Regions from separate parts of the Homo sapiens genome. Here region 1 is linked to region 2. The links come from fine-mapping of genetic effects on gene expression. Tissue or cell type: whole blood. Region 2 holds a variant in brackets; the other region holds the start of a gene. All regions are shown on one strand. Distances are between the middles of the regions.

Region 1 (5,112 bases), 110 kb before region 2:
AAGACCAATCCCTCCTTTCTTCATAGTCCCTAGTTAAAGATTGCTGTGGGCTCCAGGCCCGGCGCGGTGGCTCAGGCCTGTAATCCCAGCACTTTGGGAGGCCAAGGCGGGTGGATCACGAGGTCAGGAGTTCAAGAGCAGCCTGACCAACATGGTGAAACCCCGTCTCTACTAAAAATACAAAAATTAGCTGGGCGTGGTGGTGCGCGCCTGTAATCCCAGCTACACAGGAGGCTGAGGCAGGAGAATCGCTTGAACCTGAAAGGCGGAGGTTGCAGTGAGCCCAGATCGCACCACTCCACTCCAGCCTGGGCGACAGAGCGAGACTCCGTCCCCCTCAAAAAAAAAAAAAAAAACTGGACCCAGACTAAACAACTGAAGGACAAAGTGGCAGACTATCACTTTCCTTATTTAGACACTAAACTTGGCAGCCTTATTTGCACCAATTTAGTCTGTGATCGATAAGATCCTCCAGGTTCTTTTTCTTTAACACTTATTAAATCATATTATCCTCCATTTTGAACTCAGGCAGTTGGCTTTTGGAGCTGGACTTATAAGTTGTCACGTTTGGCCACTTGTCTAATTAGCTGAGATTGTTTGAATTTTCTTTTTTTCTTTTTTTTGAAACAGAATCTCTTTGTCTCCCAGGCTGGAGTGCAGTGGCGCGATCTCGGCTCACTGCAAGCTCCGCCTACCGGGTTCACGCCATTCTGCCTCAGCCTCCCGAATAGCTGGGACTACAGGCGCCTGCCACCACGCCCGTCTATTTTTTTTTATTTTTAGTAGAGACGGGGTTTCACCGTGTTAGCCAGGATGGTCTTGATCTCCTGACCTCGTGATCTGCCCGCCTCGGCCTCCCAAAGTGCTAGGATTACAGGCGTGAGCCACCGCGCCCGGCCTTGAATTTTCCTTTCATCTCTGAAGGCATTCATAATTACTTCCAGTTTCATGTTATCTATAAATTTGATAAACATCAGGATCCTTAACCATGTCATTTATAAAAATTTTACTCAGGAAAGGCCGGGCGCGGTGGCTCACGCCTGTAATCCCAGCACTTTGGGAGGCCAAGAACGGCGGATCACGAGGTCAGGAGATCGAGACCATCCTGGCTAACACGGTGAAACCTCATCTCTACTAAAAACATAAAAAGTTAGTCGGGCCTGGCGGCAGACACCTGTAGTCCCAGCTACTCGGGAGGCTGAGGCAGGAGAATGGCGTGAACCCGGGAGACGGAGCTTTCAGTGGGCCGAGATCACCCCACTGCACCCCAGCCTGGGCGACAGACAGAGTGAGACTCCCTCTCAAAAAAAAAAAAAATATTTTACTCAGGGAAGAATTCTATGCCATGGTGGCCTTTGTTTGATAACATACATTATTAACGTGCACTCCTGTAGGTGCACTAAAAACTTAGCTCATGCACTTTGTATATCCTTATAATGGTCCAAAGAAAACACACTGATTCTTTTCAATGGTGGCCAATGCCTTGCCAAAATGAAATAATTTCCATAAACCTTAAGAAGGAAATAATGTCAGGATTTTGAATCAACATCTGTTTCTACTGACCATTTATTTTTAAATAGGTTCTAAAATCCTGACAAGGGCAGTAGCTCATGCCTGTAGTCCCAGCACTTTGGGAGGCTGAGACGAAAGGATCGCTTGATCCCAGCCAGGAGACAAGCCTGGGCAAGAGCGAGACCCCATCTCTACAAAAAACAGAAAAATTAGCCGGGTGTGGTAGTGTGTGCCCGTTGTCCCAACTACTAAGGAAGCTAAGGCAAGGAGGTCACCTGTGCCTGGGAGGTCAAGGCTGCAGTGAGCCGCGCTACTGCACTCCAGCCTGGGCAACAGAGTGAGACCCTGCCTCGAAAAAGCCAAAACAAAACCGGTAATACTGGCATCATACCAGCCTGCACTTTGGGACAGGTGATGGCTGGGGTGGGAAGAAACGTGAAGAGGAAATGAGAACACAGAGAAAACGCTGCAACAAGAAGTCCTCTGGCTTCACTGCAGACAACTGGTTTCTCCTTCGCCCGTTATCTTAAACAAGGCTGGTGCAGCAAATCTGACGCAGCACTACAGCTTTTAAGATTTACCTTGATTCGTGATTTTACCAAGCAAAGGAATGCAGTAAATTGACCTGCTTCAAACGTAGGTAGAAGTGAGAAATGGAAACAGAAAACCATGAAACAGCCCTAGTGTTGCAGTGAAGCTGTGACAGGTTGACTCCTTCCACTCGGGAAGCCCAAGATGGCCGGGCCAGGAACCCGGGAGGCTGCTGAAGTCTCAATTCCCCTCGCCCTAGGCCTGCCCAAGGGAAGTCAGGAGCCGCGCCACGCCCCCTTACATCACCGATAGACGTAATCCGGGTCGGCCGCAAACGTGCCGCAGGCCTAGGCCCCGCCCAGTGCCCCGCCCCTCCCCCAACACACACACACACACACACACACACACACACCCCAACACACACACACACACCCCAACACACACACACACACACACACACACACACACACACACACACACACACACACACACAGCGGGATGGCCGAGCGCCGCACGCGTAGCACGCCGGGACTAGCTATCCAGCCTCCCAGCAGCCTCTGCGACGGGCGCGGTGCGTAAGTACCTCGCCGGTGGTGGCCGTTCTCCGTAAGATGGCGGACCGGCGGCGGCAGCGCGCTTCGCAAGACACCGAGGACGAGGAATCTGGTGCTTCGGGCTCCGACAGCGGCGGCTCCCCGTTGCGGGGAGGCGGGAGCTGCAGCGGTAGCGCCGGAGGCGGCGGCAGCGGCTCTCTGCCTTCACAGCGCGGAGGCCGAACCGGGGCCCTTCATCTGCGGCGGGTGGAGAGCGGGGGCGCCAAGAGTGCTGAGGAGTCGGAGTGTGTGAGTGCGCGCAGGCGGGGCGGGGTGGGGACCGGGCGGCGAGCCGGCCGGGGGCGGGGTGTAGGTGATGCTAGGTAGTCTGTGAGTTGATAGTAGATACTGGGACTTTTTTTTGTTTTTGAGAGAAAAGGGGAGTTATCCCAATGCGAGTTTGCATCCGGAGTTCCAAGGGAAGAAGAAGGATTGGGGGTTTCTGGGAGGATGGTAGAGCCGCTGGAGATGGAAAGCGGATGTTTTATTCAGAAGTCGGGGCTGGAGGGAAGGAGACCAGACCTGCCTTGGCTACTACTTGATAAAGATTTACCTATCTCTGTCTCCCTCTCCAACCATTTTGTGCTGAATCTTCAGCTTTTCACCCACATTTCTTTATTGGGCTCCCCACCTCTGGAAATCACAGAACTAACCCATGTCTTCTGCTTTCTTTCAGGAGAGTGAAGATGGCATTGAAGGTGATGGTGAGTAGCATCTTTTACCCCATTAGGACAAGAGTTTTTTTTAACATAAACTCAGGTCATCTATTTCCAACATCGACATTCTCACACACTGTCACGGATTTAGGGCCACAGAGTGCCTTTTTGTAACATAGTGGTTAAGAGCATAGGCTTTAGCAGTATAGTCTTCAGCAAGTTACCCTCTGAGCCTGTTTCTCCTTTTGTAAGTGGGGACTATAATTTTATCCACGTTGTAGGTTGATGTCAGAATTAAATGAGACTCTTAGTCTGACCTGTAATAAGCAGCCAAAAAATGTTTCTGGGTTTCTTTTTTTCCACATATTTCTGTTTTATTTCAGCTGTTCTCTCGGATTATGAAAGTGCAGAAGACTCGGAAGTGAGTATGACAGGTTTTTTCCTATGGTATAGATCAGAAATGCTTTTTAAAAACGTGTACACACCTTCGTTGCAAACGTACCATGACCTCCGTGTTTATCCTCTTGTGTATTCTTCATTTATGCTTCTGAAAAAGTGTTACAGAAGGTCTTGTTCACTTTAGACCTAGGGAAAACTTGGGGCACGCCGTCTCAAGCCACAGGTGTTATACTGTTAGTTGGCTTCTCTTCCTGTCTGAAGAATATGAGGTTCTAAATAAGAGAGTGAGGATATCTTGAAGTCCTCTGAAAGATGTTTGACAGTTTGTTTTATGCAGTGTAGGTTGAGAAGCCAGCCAATTGGTTATTTTTTTCCAAATCTATCTGAAGACTTTGAAAGGGTAGGATTCGGAATGTTTTGTGCCAAGAGCATCCATCATTTTATAGGTGGGGATTTTTCTGTTTTTAGGAGAAAGTTTCCTGTCTTTTGGATAAACTACTAGAGATGCCATCAGAGTAAGTGTTTGTTTCCTGGGTTGTTGAGTGGACTCCTGAGTTCTGGTAATGGGATTATATATAGGGGGAATTGGATGGTGGATCAAAGATTTTGTCTATACATTTTTAGAACTGTTACTACATTTTAGAATCTGTTAAGCCCTTGAGGATGGAATAGTGAACACTATAACAAAATTCCTATCTTTAGAGATCTTACAACTCAATAAGGAAGTCAGACAAACATTCAAGCAATTGTACCACTTGCTGATAGGGGATAGCACTGGGATAGGGCTAAGTAGGGTGTTACAGCTGGGTACTGAATCCATCTTAGGCAGTCGGGAAAGATTAAACAGTTGGCTGGGTAAGATGTGTTCTAGGCAGAGAGAACAACAGTCAAGAAAGCCCACAGGGGCCGGGAGCAGTGGCTCACGCCTGTAATCCCAGCACTTTGGAAGGCTGAGGCAGACGGATCACTTGAGGCCAGGAGTTTGAGACCAACGTGGCCAAAATGGTGAAACTCCATCTCTGGCCCGGCGCGGTGGCTCACGCCTATAATCCCAGCACTTTGTGAGGCCCAGGCGGGCGGATCACGAGGTCAGGAGATCGAAACCGTCCTGGCTAACATGGTGAAACCCCGTCCCTACTAAAAATACAAAAAAAAATAATAATAAATTAGCTGGGCGTGGTGGCGGGCGCCTGTAGTCCCAGCTACTCGGGAGGCTGAGGCAGGAAAATGGTGTGAATCCGGGAGGCGGAGCTTGCAGTGAGCTGAGATTGTGCCACTGCACTCCAGCCTGGGTGACAGAGCAAGACTCCGTCTCAAAAAAAAAAACCCATCTCTACTAAAAAATACAAAAATTAGCTTGGTGTGGTGATGCATGCCTGTAATCGCAGCTACTTGGGAGGCTGAGACACGAAAATCGTTTG
Region 2 (5,199 bases):
GAGCTATAGAAAAAGCCTTTTTTTGGAGTGGTAGTGGTAAAATGTGTGTAACATGAATGTTATTCTAGTCTGTTTCCTTGTACTTTAGAGAAACCAGAAACACTTTAGTGGAAACCCTCTGTTATAGTCTGTCCTAGAACACATGGAGGCAAGTTTTTCATTCCTCTTGACATTATTCCCTGTGTGATTATAGGAACCTGTTTGGTTCCTGCCGTTGTTGGCTCCTGGAGTGGCATGTGACTACTCTTAGGCAGCTCCTGGCTCTTTTCTCATTTTGGGGTTCTTTGGCCTAGGGACTGGATGCCATTATGCCATTGTAGTAATGAGCTCCTACCTCCCATGCTGGATTGCTTTTCAGGAGCAAAGCTGAAGGACAGCTGAACAGGTGGGCAGATTACCAACAGGTGACTTTTAACCCTGGAAGGCCTTCAGTTAGTACTTAGTCTCTGGATGAGATTAAGCCAGGAGATCAAGTATAGTCTGTGGGATTAATGAGATAACCGATCGAACTTCTGGTTTGAGTGTGAAGCTGTCGGTTCATTTAGGTTTCTTTGGTTTTACAGTGTTGGTGTATTGGACAGAGAAGGGGACTACTTTTGGATTTGGAGGATGGCCTATATATAAAGCCTCAGATTTCATCTCTTCTCACTCTGTTCTAGCTATCCTGGTCTTTTTACTAGTTCTCTAACACACCAACTACATTCCCATGTTAGAATTTTTTCACTTGCTGTTATTTCTTTTCGGAATGCTCTTTCCCCAGATGTTTACATGGCATGCTCTGCTCATGGAGAGACTTCTTGGGAGAGCCAGATACTCTCCCCCAATGGCCCTTTCCCTGTGACTGTATTATTTTATCATTATTATTACTATTTTGTTGTTGTCGTGGTTAAATTCTCCTAGATCCTGAAGCCTGCAACCCTATCCAAAGGAAGACTCTAACCTGGGCAGCTGTAGTCCCAGCTACTGGGGAGGCTGAGGCTGGAGGATTGCTTAAGCCCAGACGTTCAAGACCAGCTTAGGCAACATAGTCTGGACAATCTATCTCTAAAAAATAAATAAGTAAAACAAAAGAACATTCCAGTCTATTCCTATACTCTACCTTTATGATTCTCTGTTTTTTTTACTCCTTTTATCAGTAACTGTTATACTGAGATTTTATTTCTTCCTTCTTACACTAGAATGTAAGCTCCAAGACAGTAGACGCTTGTCTTGCTCATCTTCTAGAACAGGGCTTAGCAACCTCAGCATTGTTGACAATGTAGACCAGATAATTCTTTTTTTTTTTTTTGAGATGGAGTCCCGTTCTGTCGCCCAGGCTGGAGCGCAGTGGCACGATCTCAGCTTACTGCAACCTCCACCTCCCGGGTTCAAGTGATTCTCCTGCCTCAGCCTCCTGAGTAGCTGGGATTACAGGCGCCCGCCACCATGCTTGGCTGACTTTTATATTTTTAGTAGAGACAGGGTTTCACCATGTTGGCCAGGTTGGTCTTGAACTCCTGACCTCAAGTGATCTACCCGCCTCGGCCTCCCAAAGTGTTGGGATTACAGGTGTGAGCCACTGCACCTGTCCTGACCAGATAATTCTTTGTTGTGGGCGGCTGTCTTATGCGTTGGAGGATGTTGAGCAGCATCCTTGTTTTCTATTCACTAGATGCCAGCAGCACTCCCTACCCTAGTTGTGACAAATATGTCAATGACATTGTCAATGACTCTGGGGAACAAAATCCCTCCTGGTTGAGAGCCATTGTTCTAGAAAAATACTTTGGCACTCAGTGGGTGCTTCAATATTTATTAAGTGGTTAAGTTGTGGATACTTAATTGGATGATGGATGCATGAGTGCATTCAGCATATTAAAATTTTTTGGAGCATTGAACAACACGTATAGCCTTGTGTTTCTTTCTTTCCTCTTTTCATAGATATCTCCATTCTTCTGTCTGTTTTCTGTTTCTGGCATGTTGATCCATTCCTTGCTGCATTTTCCTCCACCCAGACTTGCTTGCTCTTTTAGACAATGCTACTCTTTTTTTTTTTTTTTTCCTGAGTCTCACTGTTGCCCAGGCTGGAGTGCAGTGGCGTGATCTCGGCTCACTGCAACACCTTCCTCCCGGGTTCAAGCGATTCTCCTGCCTCAGCCTCCAGAGTAGCTGGGATTACAGGCGCGCACCACCACACCCAGCTAATTTTTGTGTTTTAGTAGAGATGGGGTTTCACCACGTTGGCCAGGCTGGTCTCGAACTCCAGACCTTAAGTGATCTGTCTGCCTCGGCCTCCCAAAGTGCTGGGATTACAGGCGTGAGCCACCGTGCCCTGCCTGTGCTGCTCATTTTTTTTTTTTTTTTTTTGAGACTGATTTTCATTCTTGTTGCCTAGGCTGGAGTGCAATGGCACAGTCTCGGCTCACTGCAACCTCCACCTCCTGGGTTCAACGATTCTCCTGCCTCAAGCCTCCCAAGTAGCCAGGATAACAGGCACCTGACACCACGCCCAACCAATTTTTGTATTTTTAGTAGAGATGGTTTCA[C/G]TATGTTGGCCAGGTTGGTCTTGAACTCCTGACCTCAAATGATCCGCCTGCCTTAGCCTCCCAAAGTGCTGGGATTACAGGTGTGAGCCACTGCGCCTGGCTAGGCCTGTGCTACTCTTATATTTACTTTTGTTCAATTCAGCAAGTGACTGCTGAGCAGCTACGGTATGCTGTAGAATAATGAGAGAGAACCCTAGAAAGATATGGTACTGTCTGTGCTTAAGAACTCATTTGTTGGCCGGGCGTGGCGACTCATGCCTGTAATCCCAGACTTTGGGAGGCCGAGGTGGGCGGATCACGACATCAGTAGTTCGAGTCCAGTCTGGCCAACATAGTGAAACCCCGTCTCTACTAAAAATACAAGAAATTAGCCGGGTGTGGTGGTGTGCGCCTATAATCCCAGCTACTTGGAAGGCTGAGGCAGGAGAATTGCATGAACCTGGGAGGTGGAGGAGGTTGCAGTGAGCCGAGATCGTGCCATTGCACTCCAACCTGGGTGACAGTGCGATACTCCGTCTCAAAACAAACAAACAAAAACACAAAAACAACTCGCTTGTTAAAATGGACATAGGTGTATGAAATGTTCCTCGAAAATTTAATTCTTATTTCAGGGTTTTTTTTTTTTTTTTTTTTTTTTTTTTGAGACAGGATCTTGCTCTGTTGCCCAGGCTAGAGTGCAGTGGCACAATCTCAGCTCACTGCAACCTCCAGCTCCCGGGTTCAAGCGATTCTCCTGCTTCAGCCTCCCAAGGTAGCTAGGATTACAGGTGCGTGCCACCAAGCCTGGCTAATTTTTGTATTTTTAGTAGGGATGGGGTTTCACCATGTTGGCCAGGCTAGTCTCGAACTCCTGACCTCAAGTGATCCACCTGCCTCGGCCTCCCAAAGTGCTGGGATTACGGGCGTGAGCCAACGCGCCTGGCCTTTTTTTTTTTTACTTTTTTTGAGACAGAGTCTTACTCCTTCACCCAGGCTGGAGTGCAGTGGTGCAATCTCAGCTCACTGCAGCCTCCACCTCCTGGGTTCAAGTGATTCTCGTGCCTCAGCCTCCCGAGTAGCTGGAGTTACAGGCGTTTGCCACCATGCCTGGCTAATTTTTGTATTTTTAGTAGAGATGGGGTTTCACCAACTTGACCAGGCTGGTCTCAAACTCCTGACCTCAAGCAGTCCACCCCCCTTGGCCTCTCAAATGCTGGGATTATAGGCTGAGCCAGTGCACCCAGCCTCAGGATAATGTTTAAATTGATACTAATGGGCCACCATAGGGTTAAGTTAGTAATTGTTAAATACTTATCAGAATGGGTGAAATTGCTGTCGAATTTAGAATCCAGTTTTAACAAAACCTACCCATTCAATTTTTACTTATTTTCATTTGTTGCAATTGTCTTTGGTTTCTTGCTGTTAATTCTATTTTTGTCTGAAACCTGGTTGAAAAATATACAAAGTGGACTTGGTCATTTTGAACTTTTTGTTTGATGTGAATGTTCTTGGGGTTGGTTGTTGTATTGAAAGGTTGTGAAAAGCTGATACATCAGTTTTTTTTTTTAATAAAAATTTAAAAGTTATTTCTTTTTTTTTTTTTTTTTTTTTTTTTTTGAGACTCTCTGTTGCCCAGGCTGGAGTGCTGTTGCACAATCTTGGCTCACTGCAACTTCTGCCTCCCAGGTTCAAGTGATTCTCGCACTTCAGCCTCCCAAATAGCTGGGATTATAAGCACCCGCCACCGTGCCTGGCTAATTTTTTTTATAATTTTAGTAGAGATGGGGGTTCCACCATGTTGGCCAGGCTGGTCTCAAACTCCTGACTTCAAGAGATCCGTCCGCCTCGGCCTCCCAAAGTGCTGGGATTATAGGCGTCAGCCACTGTGCCTGGCCTAAAAAATATTTCTTATTAAATAGAGACAAGGTCTCACTTTGTTACCCAGGCTGGTCTCTAAGCACATTCGATCCTTCTGCCTCAGTCTCTCAAAGTGCTGGGATTGCAGGCTTGAGCCATAATGCCCTGCCTGACTCTCTTTCTACCAAACATTTATGTTTCATCTCTGATGCTGTTAGAGAGATTTCATTTGATTTGAACTATGGGATCAGAAGAATTCCATTAGGGAGGAGTGTCTGGAATCTTTTTCTTTTGAAGACACAACTGTCTTCTCCTTAGATTATCTGGGAGATAGAGTAGTCAAAGCTGTTGTGGTTTTTTCAGAGAGGATCCTGAAATTTGTTTTACCTATCTCTGTTTCTTTGTATTGAGAAATGGTTTATTAGGATATTAAGTAATTAAACATATATTGAAGAAATAAAGATGATTTTCTTTTTGATATCTCAGATTCCTATTCATATGACTGATTCTTGTAAGGAAGGACTGGGACCTTAAGATTTTGCTGAGTGAGGGAGGTGGCCTGTTTTTTTAAGGTCAGTTTTTTTCCCTTTTGGGATTTTGTTCAGTGCTTTGATACAAAAACTGTAATTTACTTTGTAGTCAAAACTGAGATCAAAGGAAAGTACTGTTACCTGAGGCATGAAAATAGAAGATAGCATTAAGATTTAGAATTTTTCTTGATTTTCGTGTCTTTTTAAAATAACTTGCAATTGAAACCTGAGTTTTAGAGCAGCAGAATGCCATTTGAATAAAGGCCCCAGATTGTAGTGGTAACTAGGATACCTCTTAGATAATTTTAAGT

Evidence for each region. PIP is the estimated chance that this variant, and not a neighbour inherited with it, causes the effect.
Region 1: it holds the start of CASC3, and the variant in region 2 is fine-mapped to the expression of CASC3 in whole blood (TOPMed, PIP above 0.99).

What each region holds. Positions count from the first base shown.
Region 1 is chr17:40,137,895-40,143,006 of GRCh38, forward strand. CASC3 (CASC3 exon junction complex subunit) reads left to right here and starts at 2,643. Exons shown (of 14, transcript NM_007359.5): 1 at 2,643-2,885; 2 at 3,313-3,340; 3 at 3,676-3,713. The coding sequence starts at 2,655. RefSeq lists enhancers at 2,254-3,194, 2,660-2,959.
Region 2 is chr17:40,244,073-40,249,271 of GRCh38, forward strand. The region is part of intron 1 of WIPF2 (WAS/WASL interacting protein family member 2); the gene reads left to right. Among named protein-coding and RNA genes, the nearest start is that of WIPF2, 27 kb to the left of the region's middle. The variant C/G (reference allele first, on the strand shown) is at 2,523.